2 separate regions of the Homo sapiens genome follow, and region 1 is linked to region 2. Evidence: fine-mapped expression QTL. A gene starts in region 2. The other region holds a variant in brackets. All regions are shown on one strand. Distances are from middle to middle.

Region 1 (5,385 bases), 28 kb after region 2:
CTCTGAGAAGGGAAAGGACACAGATTCTTGGTTTCTTGAAATCTAATTCTTTAAGACACTTAGAATCTAATTTAATGAGACCCCAGTGCTTCTGGACTGTTTGCAAACAGACAAGAACAATCTAGTGTGTGTGAAGTGGGAGGAGGGAGGGGAGAGAGTGTGTGTTTAAACCCCTGATAATTTATCTAAAAAGCAAGGGGATACATACAACAAAGACCAGGAATTTCACTTTCTTTCTCTTTTCCTTCCCATTTTGGTTTCTATTTTGTTATGTGCCTCCTTCTCCAAGACAACGAATGCAGGAAGGACCTCACTGGCTGCTGGGAACAACTGCCCTTTTGAATGAATTCTTTTATGGTTACCAGTCAAAAAGTCACCGTCAGCTGGAACTGGAAGGGAGGTGTGTGTGTGTGTGTGTGTGTGCGCGTGTGTGTGTGTACGCGCAGTGGCAGCCATTTCAGCTCAATAGCTCCATTCCTGGAAAGGCCACTTCTTCTTGACATGGGAGAAGACACACTTCCCTGTGTACCTAAAAATAAATAATAAGTAAATAAATAATAATAATAAGAAAGTCATTTTTGCTCCCTCCCCCAGGTCTTAATTCTTCTTTCTCTTTTAATCATGTTTTTCTGTGTGCCACCTTTGCTTTGCTTATTTCCCCCACTGCTTGTTCTGTCTGATGGCATTTCTGGGAATCTGTGTCCTAAAGGCTTTCTTGGGTTTATTGGTGAGTTTCAGCTCTTTTTCACTCTAGTTCTGCATAAGGGGTGGGCATTAGTATTTATTGTAAATGCATTGGAAATGGGATCTCAACAACAATAACACACACACACACACACAAACACAAAAATGGAGTATTAACTTGTTTCTTAAGCCATAACTGAATTTAGAGTTCTCCCAGTAAGTCATGCGCTTTACTTCTCTCTGGCATTTCTTGCTTTTTTAAAAAAAAGCAATTTCATTAAAAGACTATTCTCTTTTTTGGCCCAGGAGCATAGGAAACCAGTTATAAAAACTGTTGGCATGCTTTGCAGAGAGATTCTCAGCAAAGAGGCTTTTTTTTTGTTTTATTTTGTTTTGTTTTGTTTGAGTGGGGGCTTGGGAGGGCTCCATCTGCCTTAGTAACTGGCTAAGTAACTGGCCTGGGCTACTCAGTCTGTTTCTCTTCCTCCTGCCTAGGGGCATTTCTTATCTGGGCAAAAAGCCCCTGTACCCAGCGAGGTGAAACTTGCAAATGATACTGTCACCTTCCTCAATGGACTGCAGCTCAGGAGCTCACCAAAGGTTGCAGCAGACAACCCCCACGGTGTTTGGAGACAAAGGAATAGCAGCTGCCTGGTTTCCTTGAATCACCCCGTGCTCTGACGATGGCAGTGATGGGCCTCCCACCAATGGCTTCCCCAAGTGCTGTTTTCCTGCTTCATGCCAAGTTAAGCATTCTGATACTAAGCGGCACGAGATAGTTCTCAACTGGGTGAGGCACAGGTGTGAGTAATCTCGAGGTATGGTCAGGAGGTTTGAAAAAACTAACCCAGCTGCAAGGAAAAGACCTCTGGTCTTTATTGGAAACACGAATTTGACCTGTCCAAGCTGGGAGCTAATAGGCCCCAGCAGCTCAGGATCCCCTCCTCACTTACGCTTGGGTTTTGAGTGATACCATATTTTTCTGAACACATTTTCCAAATGCCTATTTGCCAAAGCCGTGGTGTAATTTGCCTAAGCAGCAAACTTGTCCTTAGAGTCGAGGTCCATCCACATCAGGAGAGTATATTCAATGTTTATCTCCGATCAATGTGTGATGAATTGCATATGAGATAGATTTGTGTGAGCCAATGTGTGTGTGTGGATCTGTGTTAGTTACATGTGTTTATTTGCATGTATGTAAATATGACTGTGTGAGTGCATGGATCTATTCCTGCATGATATATATTTATATATATGAATATGTGCATATATATGCAAATATGGGTATAAATATGTATCTGAACATATAGGTGTGTATCTGTAGTGGACACTGTCAATGCACTCATCCTCCAGTTACTTAGGCATCCCAGCTTCTCAGCTCAATGGGGGCCGCTTGCCCATCCCCCCACCTCCCAGGGCAGCCCAGAATTCACCTACCAGGGTTCAAAGGCTGGCTCCCTTGACTCAAGGTCAAACTATCTGGGTGGTGCAATTCATGCTCCAGTTGAAACCAACCCTTGCCCAACTCTTTTCTTGCCCTCTTCTTTTTCTCTTACTCCCTTTCCCTCGGAGCCCACTCTCAGTATATCCTATGCGTCCAAATCCCCATCTCAGGCTCTGCTCCAAGCAACCTGGCCTAAGACAGCACTATTCTATACATGCATGTGTGTGTACATGCAAACATACAACTGCACACATTTGTGTGTGTGTGTGCCCATATACAAGGAAATCCGGGAAGATCTGGGAGAGAATGATCTTCCAAAGAAGATAATGGAGAAAGAGTATGGATTTTATAATGTAGAAGTTAGAGTCATCTCAGATATAGAGTGGGACTGCTTTGAAGTTGAAAATTAAAAGATACTTTAGAAGTAAATGTATTTTTTATTAAATCAGAAAAAGAAAGATACAGTTTACATGACTGTCAGTCAATCATATGCTACTTTGAATTACATTTTAATAGACTCAGGGTCCTATTTACTCCTTTGTACAGGTATTAAAAACAACTCAGGTATTTGAGAAGTCTTCTGTAAATTTTTATTAACTGAGGTTATGGGGAGGGTTTTATCAGAGCACATCCTGAGAACATTAGGAATGACAGACACACTTGAGATAAGTGTCAGACGGAACAGATGAAGCGAGCCCCTCAGCCATCTGAGAAACATTAATAATGTAAGATAGCAGAGACCAAATCTTTGTTAGGGATACAGTATTACAGGATAAAAATGGGGACCTTGCCGCCCCCTTGTGTTGCAAAATAACCGTGCAACTTCCTTTATTTTTTATTTATTTTTTTTTTTTAAGTTGTAATCTTTGCCGTTGTCACT[G/A]AGCCTCAAAAGCAATTGTTTTCCCAAATCATTTTAAGCCCTCCCCAGTCAATCTTTTCCCTCTCATCAATAACTTACAAGGACCCTATTTGAAAAACAACGCTTATTCATTCCTTTTTCTATACCCCACACATTCCGTTCTAGGAAATTGGCAACCACCCAACACAGCCCGGGTTCTCCCTCCTTGAGATGTGAATTTAAACAAATGGATTTTCGTCTCCCTTCTTCAAGCTTAGAGGATAAGCACGCATTTACTACAACGCTTAATTCCTTCTAGCAGCATTTCTCTTCTATAACTTACTTGCCACTGCCTTTTTTTTTTTTTGATAGAATCTTGCTCTGTCGCCCAGGGTGGAGTGCAATGGTGCAACTTCGGCTCACTGCAACCTCCACCTCCTGGGTACAAGCGGTTCTCGTGCGTTGGGCTCCCGAGTAGCTGGGACTACAGGTGTGTGCCACCATGCCTGGCTAATTTTTGTATTTTTAGTAGAGACGGGGTTTCATGATGTTGGCCAGGCTAGTCTTGAACTCCTGACCTCAGGTGATCCACCTGCCTCGGCCTCCCAAAGTGCTGAGATTACAGGCGAGAGCCACCACGCCCGGCCACCACTGCCATTTTCATCACTTAACCCGAACACATTCCTCTATTCCCTCCCTTTCCTGCTTGGTGATCATCGACTCTTCTGACCCAACTAGGTGACCTGCTAAACCATCTTTACTGTTATTTGCCAGAAAAGACTGGACCAGAGACGTAAATAATACACCTCAATATACAACAGCTCGGGCTTAATTTCTAGGCAGAATTTCATTTGCTGGCCATCAGAAGAATATATACATGGAGCGTGTTTGGGGAGGAGATGGAGTAAGGAGAACACATCTTGGTGGCAGGAGAACCTGGTGGGAACCGTGCTGATTTGTTTACTTGGATTTGCCAACTGGTCCGATGGATACTGGGTCTGTTTGCACTTGAGCATCCAACATCCGCTTTGGTCCCTGGAGAAAAACAGAAAGACGTGGCAGCCTATTGAAGCTCTGTAATGTCAACAGCAACAATGGCCATTTATGTAGCACTTACTCTGTGCTAGGTGTTGGGCTAAATTAATATATCTCATTCCTCAGTGCTGGGTAAGAGAATGGTCTCCAGTCAGATGCCCGGGTTCGATACCCAGTTACATGACTTTCTAGCTTTGTGAAATCTTGGACAAATTACTTATCATCTCTTTGCGCTTTGGTTTCTTTATCTTTAAAATGGAAATGACAAACTTATCTCAGAGGGTTGTTCCCAAGATAAAGTGAGTTCATGCTTATAATGTACTTAGTACCTAGGGGGTACTAATTCTACCTCACTTTAGCTCCCTCCCCAGTTACCATCTAGGTTCACCACCCTGTTTTATTTTCTTCTTTTTTTTTTATTATACTTTTAAGTTCTAGGGTACATGTGAGCAATGTGCAGGTTTGTTACATATGTATACATGTGCCATGTTGGTGTGCTGCACCCATTAACTCGTCATGTAACATTAGATATATCTCCTAATGCTATCCTTCCCCCAACCCCCCATCCCAAACCCTATTTTATTCTCTCTCAGAACATACCACTCTCTGAAATGATCTTATTATCTAATTTATTTGTCTAACATCTGTCTTCTACACCAGATTGGAAGCTGCAAGGATTCTGCGTGTCTCAGTGCCTTGCAGGTTCCTAGCACATGGTACCTAGCCTTAACATTGACTGAATGTGGGTGAAGGAATGTTGTCAGGCAGATACAATTATTTTATTTTATTTTTTTGAGACAAAGTCTTACTCTGTTGCCTAGGCTGAAGTACAGTGGTGGGACTATGTTCACTGTAGCCTTGAAGTCCTGGGCTCAAATGATCCCCCCACGTCAGCCTCCCCAGTAGCTTGGACTACAGGTGCACACCACCAAACTCAGCTAATTTTAAAATTTTTTTTGTAGAGACGGGGTCTCAATTTGTTGTCCAGGATGGTCTTGAACTGCTGGGCTCATGTGATCCTTCTACCTTGGCCTCCCAAAGTGATGGAGTTACAGGTGTAAGCCACTATGCCTAGCCTGAGTACTATTATTATTATTATTACTTTACCGTTTCTGTCAAGTATAACTTATAAGTAGTAAAGTTAACCTTTTCTGTATTTGGTTCTATGAGGTTAGACCAACACAAATAGCCCCCTAAAACCACCATCCAAATCAACATGTCACATGGTTCTGTCCCCCCTCAGATCTTTCTTGTGCCTTTTGTGGTCAACCGCTCCCCACCGCAGACCCTGGCAAGCACCGATCTGTTTTCATCCCTAGAGTTCTGCCTTTGCCAGGATGTCATATCATGGGATCCTAGAGTATACACAGCCCTTCAGACTAAC
Region 2 (5,385 bases):
GGCGGATCACAAGGTCAGGAGATCAAGACCATCCTGGCTAACATGGTGAAACCCCGTCTCTACTAAAAATACAAAAATTAGCCAGTCGTGGTGGTGGGCGCCTGTAGTCCCAGCTACTTGAGAGGCTGAGGCAGGAGGATGGCATGAACCTGGGAGACAGAGCTTGCAGTGAGCTGAGATCGCGCCACTGCACACCAGCCTGGGCGACAGAGCGAGACTCTGTCTCAAAAAAAAAAAAAAATATATATACACACACACACACACACACACACACACATATTCATATATATACGTATATATGTATACATGTATATACGTATATATGTATATATACATATATGTATATATATCCATGTGTGTGTATATATATCCATGTGTATATATGTATACGTATATATACACGTATATATGTACGTATACATGTATATATATACACATATACAGATACATGTATATATACATATATATAAAATAAAGCATAAGATATAATTATATTTTTGGAAATGACACATAACTCTATGTATTATGATGGTTTTCTTTTGAGGTTTCCTCTTTGGTTCTTGAGGAGTCAAATCCCTTCTTTGCTATGCCGTAGTTGCATGTTGAGAGGTCCTGTGCCAGGTGCTCAGGTGCCTGTCATTTCATCAGCTACACACCCTGGAAGCAGGCCTGACTCAATGGTCCCTGCTTTCCCCATGAAGCAGCAGTGACTCAGAGAGATGACACATTTGCCCACGGTCATTCAGTTTCTCAGCTAAATGAAGCTTCATTTAGCTTCATTTCTCCTTCTCTTAATCTCCAGGTATCTATTTATCTATCCATCCATCCATCCATCTTCCTATCCATCTATTCTCTATTGATGTATGTATATATATATATGTATTATGTATCTATGTGTCTATTACCTGTTTATGTTTCTATTACTTATCTATATCTACCCATTTATATGTATGTATGTATCTATCTACCATCTATCTATCCATCCTCTACCTATTTTCCATCTATCTATCATCTATGTATGTATTATGTACCTATGTGTCTGTCATCTATGTATCTATTACCTATCTATCTTTTTAAAAATTTATTTAATAGAGACGGGGTCCCGTTATGTTGCCCAGGCTGGTCTTGAACTCTGGACTCAAGTGATCCTCCTGCCTCGGCCCCCCAAAGTGCTGGGATTACAGGCATGAGCCACCATGCCTGGCTGTACCTATCTATCTTTATCTACTCATCTATATATATTGTATGTATCTATCATCTATCTATCTATCTATCTATCTATCTATCTATCTATCTATCTATCATCTATCAATCATCTATGTGTCTTATCTATCATCTATCTTATCTATGTATCTCTATGACCTGTCTATCTATGTATCTATCTGTTATCTCTCTGGTTATCTGGTCTCCAGTGCCCACCTCCTCCTCCCAGTCTTTTCTCTCACCCTGACTCTGAACTTCTCCAGGCCTGGTGTTATGTTTTCTGTAGCGTGACCTTATAACTAACCATCCCATCGAAGACGCTTGGGGGAGTGAAAGGAGGGGCTATTAATACTTCTGCAAAAACTGGCGCTGCCCTGAGCACACTGGGATGCCTGGTGGTGGTGGTGGTTAGGTGTAGATTTCTCCCCATTCCTTAGTGCCTCACAAGGGTGCTGTAAAACGTTTGTCGAGTGTGTTTTATCAACAGTCTCAGAAGGGGTGGTAAAAAAAAATACTCGTTTGTTTCATACAGAGAGAAATTGCATTACAAAGTGATGACTTACAAAATCACCGAAAGGAAATCAATGGTGAGGTGGAGCCAAACCTCTGCTGTAGAATTTCTGGATTCAGATAACACAGAGCTCTCTCCATCAAGCATTTGTGTGCAGAAGCTAAGCTCCAGGCCCAGGGAGAGAGCTTGAAGCAAAGACATAATAAAACAGTAACAGCTGCTACCGAAGCTGTGTCATGCAACTTTGCTTAGCCCTTTACTGTATGGTCTCATTTATTCCTTAAGGAAGGTGAGATTATAATAGAAAAGGAAAATGAATGTGCCGCAGTCACACAAATCACTCACTACTACACTGCCACCAGAGCCCAACAGAGTAGCCACAATTGTTTTCTTCCTAAAAGGTGCAATGGAGTAATACTGCACAATTTCCATTTAGATGTCCCTTCAACACGTTTCCTGGGAATCTTAGAGCAGTTAACACCCATTTAGAAAGGAGCTTTTTCATTTCGTAAATATGTTCAGTGCACCAAAACAGGCAAACAAGATAACCCGAACTCTTAACTTGCCTCAGCACCTCACCCCTTAAGATACATAGAAACAAATCAGAAATTATGCTCAATAAGGAATTTGCAAGGCTGAGGAGGGGGAGCTGGAGTCAAATCAGCTGGGTCTTCCGCCCCCTTCAGTAGGAGGGGGAAGATTACTGCAGAGAATGTAACAAGGAGAATAAGAGAGAGGGAGGGAGGGGGAAGAGAGAGAGAGAGGGAGGGGGGTGGAGAAAGAGAGAGACAGAGAAGGAAAGGAAGAAAGAAAAAGAGAGAGAATAACTGTTGGTAACGGACAGCCCAAGAAAATTGTAGAAAAGTCCATCTCTGGTACCTACCTGGTGCCACCTTCCCCCCACCCCCGCGTTGTTTATTTATTTATTTATTTTTTCTAGCCACCACCATTTTGTTGCCTGGCAGAGGTGTGAGATGCAAGGCTGTTTACAAAGCCCCCAGCAAGAGCAATCCCATCATCAGGAGGTTTGCTTCCCCCCCGGGCCAGCCCTCTCGCTCTCCATGCCCGTCTTGGCTGCATGCGTTGTACCTAACACATTTAACCCGCGTTTCTTAAGAGTTCTGCAAAATGGTGTCTGCTGGTGTTTGCAAGGGAAGCTCCCGCTGGGCGTCCCGAGCTGGGTGGGAGCTGAGTGTGCGGTTCCCTAACGAGCTGGCGGCCGGCCTGAGCGGCTCTGATCTCCAATTCTGACGGCTTGTCCTTCAGGTGACCTATATTATCTGGCACCTCAGTTGCTGCTCACAAAGAAAAAGTATCACTGGAAGAAAGAAAAAAAAAATCCCAAGTGATTGTGTACATGCTCTTTATTGAGAATATTAAACTCAGACGCCCTCTGCTGGGCAAGACGGGAAGGGGAGGCTGGGAGTAGGGGAGGGTGGCCGGGAGGGCTCAGGAGAAGCCGGGGACGGCCTCCTTCCTGTGAGATCTGTGGGCATGATTCAGGGCAAAGGGCGCCCATCAGAGCTGCTTTAGGCAAAGGGAAATACAAAACAAAAGTGAAACCGCTGACAAGGAAATCATTTAATTGGGGAGAAATGACAACTTCTTCACTTGGATTTTTTTTTTTCCTGTTCCTAAAATTGTTGCTTTTGATAGGTGAGAGGGAATGGGGTGGGGGAGACTGCTGGACACTGCCAACTTATTCATCAAGACAAAGGGTTTGGGTTTCAGGGAAGTCCTAGCAAAGAGTGTGGCTCAGCGGGTAGAAGGGTAGCTGAAATACCAGGACATTTTTGAGAGTGAAACAGAGTGCTATGGATGATGATGCGGACACAGCAGGTATAGTCCAGAGTGTCCCAGGCAAATCTGACTACCTAGTCCAGCACTGCACAGAGAGCTTTCTAGGATGATATGAATGTTTTGCATCTGTCCTGTCCTATCTATCTATCTATTTATTTATTTATTTTTGAGACAGAGCCTTTCTCTGTTGCCCAGGCTGGAGTGCAGTGGCACGATCTCGGCTCACGGCAACCTCCAACTCTTAAGTTCAAGCGATTCTCGTACCCCAACCTCCCGAGTAGCTGGGATTACAGGCACCCGCCACCATGGCTGGCTAATTTTTGTATTTTTAGTAGAGACAGGGTTTCGCCGTGTTGGCCAGGATGGTCTCAAACTCCTGACCTCAGGTGATCCACCTGCCTCAGCCTCCCAAAGTGCCGGGATTACAGGCGCGAGCCACTGCGCCCGGACTGTCCTGTCCTATATGGTAACCACCACCCACATGTGGCTACTGGGCTCTTGAAATGCAGCTACGCAACTGTGAGGGGATGAATTCTTAACTTCATTTAATTTTTGTTATTCTGAATTTACATTTAAATAGTCACGTATGTCTAGTGGCTATCAGACGGTAGAGCTCTGGTCTTACTATTCACAGGAACACACCGTGACCCCCATTGACAGCAGCTAAGACCCCAGGAACAGGCTTGTTGCGAGAGGCCCTCCAAACAATTTATTGAATGAATAAAAACTCAGTAATCAAAAGTCACAGAGATAGAAATTCACAACACTTCTTGGAGACTTATAGGAGCTTCCAGAAACACAACTTCTCCCAGGGAGAGTCAAGAGAGCAGTGTCATTTCCTATAAAATGTCCAAGGCCAATCCCAGGTCCCGGTGTCAGCCCTTGCGTGTGGCACTGGCACCAGCAGCCAGAAAGGTTACTTGTGACTTGTTTTCAGTGCTTTCCTGGGAGTGTCCTGAAAGCTGGCAGTGTTTCTGCCTCGTCAGAAGAGGCCTCATTCATTTGGGGTTGTACCAGCAACTTAAAAAGTTTTTTTTTTTCTTCCCTCTTCCAGTGTTAATAGATTTTGAAAGAGGCATTTTTGTTTCTAATTACAAATTCCTGGGTGATGTCATTAAGCCCTCAAACACCCGGTGAGGGCGGCACTGAATGGGGAAAGACAATATGCTAACAAGTTATCTGAGGGTGTCAGAAAGAAATGATGAAAAACAGTACAGTTGGGGGAAATGTTTTCCAGCCTGCTTTCTGGTTTTAGCGACTGCATGGGAAGAGATAAGACACACATGGCTTTTATAAGGAGCCATCGGGATCTCTAGGGGACATGAGGCAGGAGAAAAGAATTGGGCTGAAAGCATCCAATCATCACATATTCACGGAGAAAGAGATTACAATATAGCAGAGGAAGCTCTTCCAGGGCTCCTACAGGGACCTTTGGGACAAAGATTCAGTGGGCTTTGGGACAGCTTGACTTCAACTAGATGGTATTTGAATAATCTGCTGGAGAGAAAACAGATATAGCACACACTGTCACATTTAGCGTTGAAACTCTCGGTTTGACTATGAGTAATGTTCAGCCATGCCCAAGGGTCAGGCCTACACTCACTCAGAAACAAGTGGGGAATTGAAGCAATTATTCAGATAATCCATAGACATAGCTACTGGCCAGTGCTGCACCCCTGATTTAGCCCAGAAACAGTAATGCTATTATAAGCTGTTGGTGATTTGTGGAGCAATCTTGAATTTATTAAGGAAAGGAGATTATAGAAAAATCCAGAATGCCAATGGGATGCATTCAGGTTGAGTCATGCAGAGTAAGGTGGGAAATGGAGGGCCTCCCACCCCTGCAAGGAACATCTTGCTTTAGGCCAAAA

The links. PIP is the estimated chance that this variant, and not a neighbour inherited with it, causes the effect.
Region 1: its variant is fine-mapped to the expression of BCAS1-AS1 in spinal cord (GTEx, PIP 0.97).

The regions. Positions count from the first base shown.
Region 1 is chr20:53,940,996-53,946,380 of GRCh38, forward strand. It overlaps BCAS1 (brain enriched myelin associated protein 1), which reads right to left. Exons shown (of 13, transcript NM_001366298.2): 13 at 2,546-4,001. The coding sequence ends at 3,927. It overlaps BCAS1-AS1 (BCAS1 antisense RNA 1), which reads left to right. Exons shown (of 5, transcript NR_199019.1): 4 at 290-400; 5 at 1,180-2,586. Among named protein-coding and RNA genes, the nearest start is that of BCAS1-AS1, 28 kb to the left of the region's middle. The variant G/A (reference allele first, on the strand shown) is at 3,009.
Region 2 is chr20:53,912,828-53,918,212 of GRCh38, forward strand. It overlaps BCAS1-AS1 (BCAS1 antisense RNA 1), which reads left to right and starts at 2,662. Exons shown (of 5, transcript NR_199019.1): 1 at 2,662-2,739.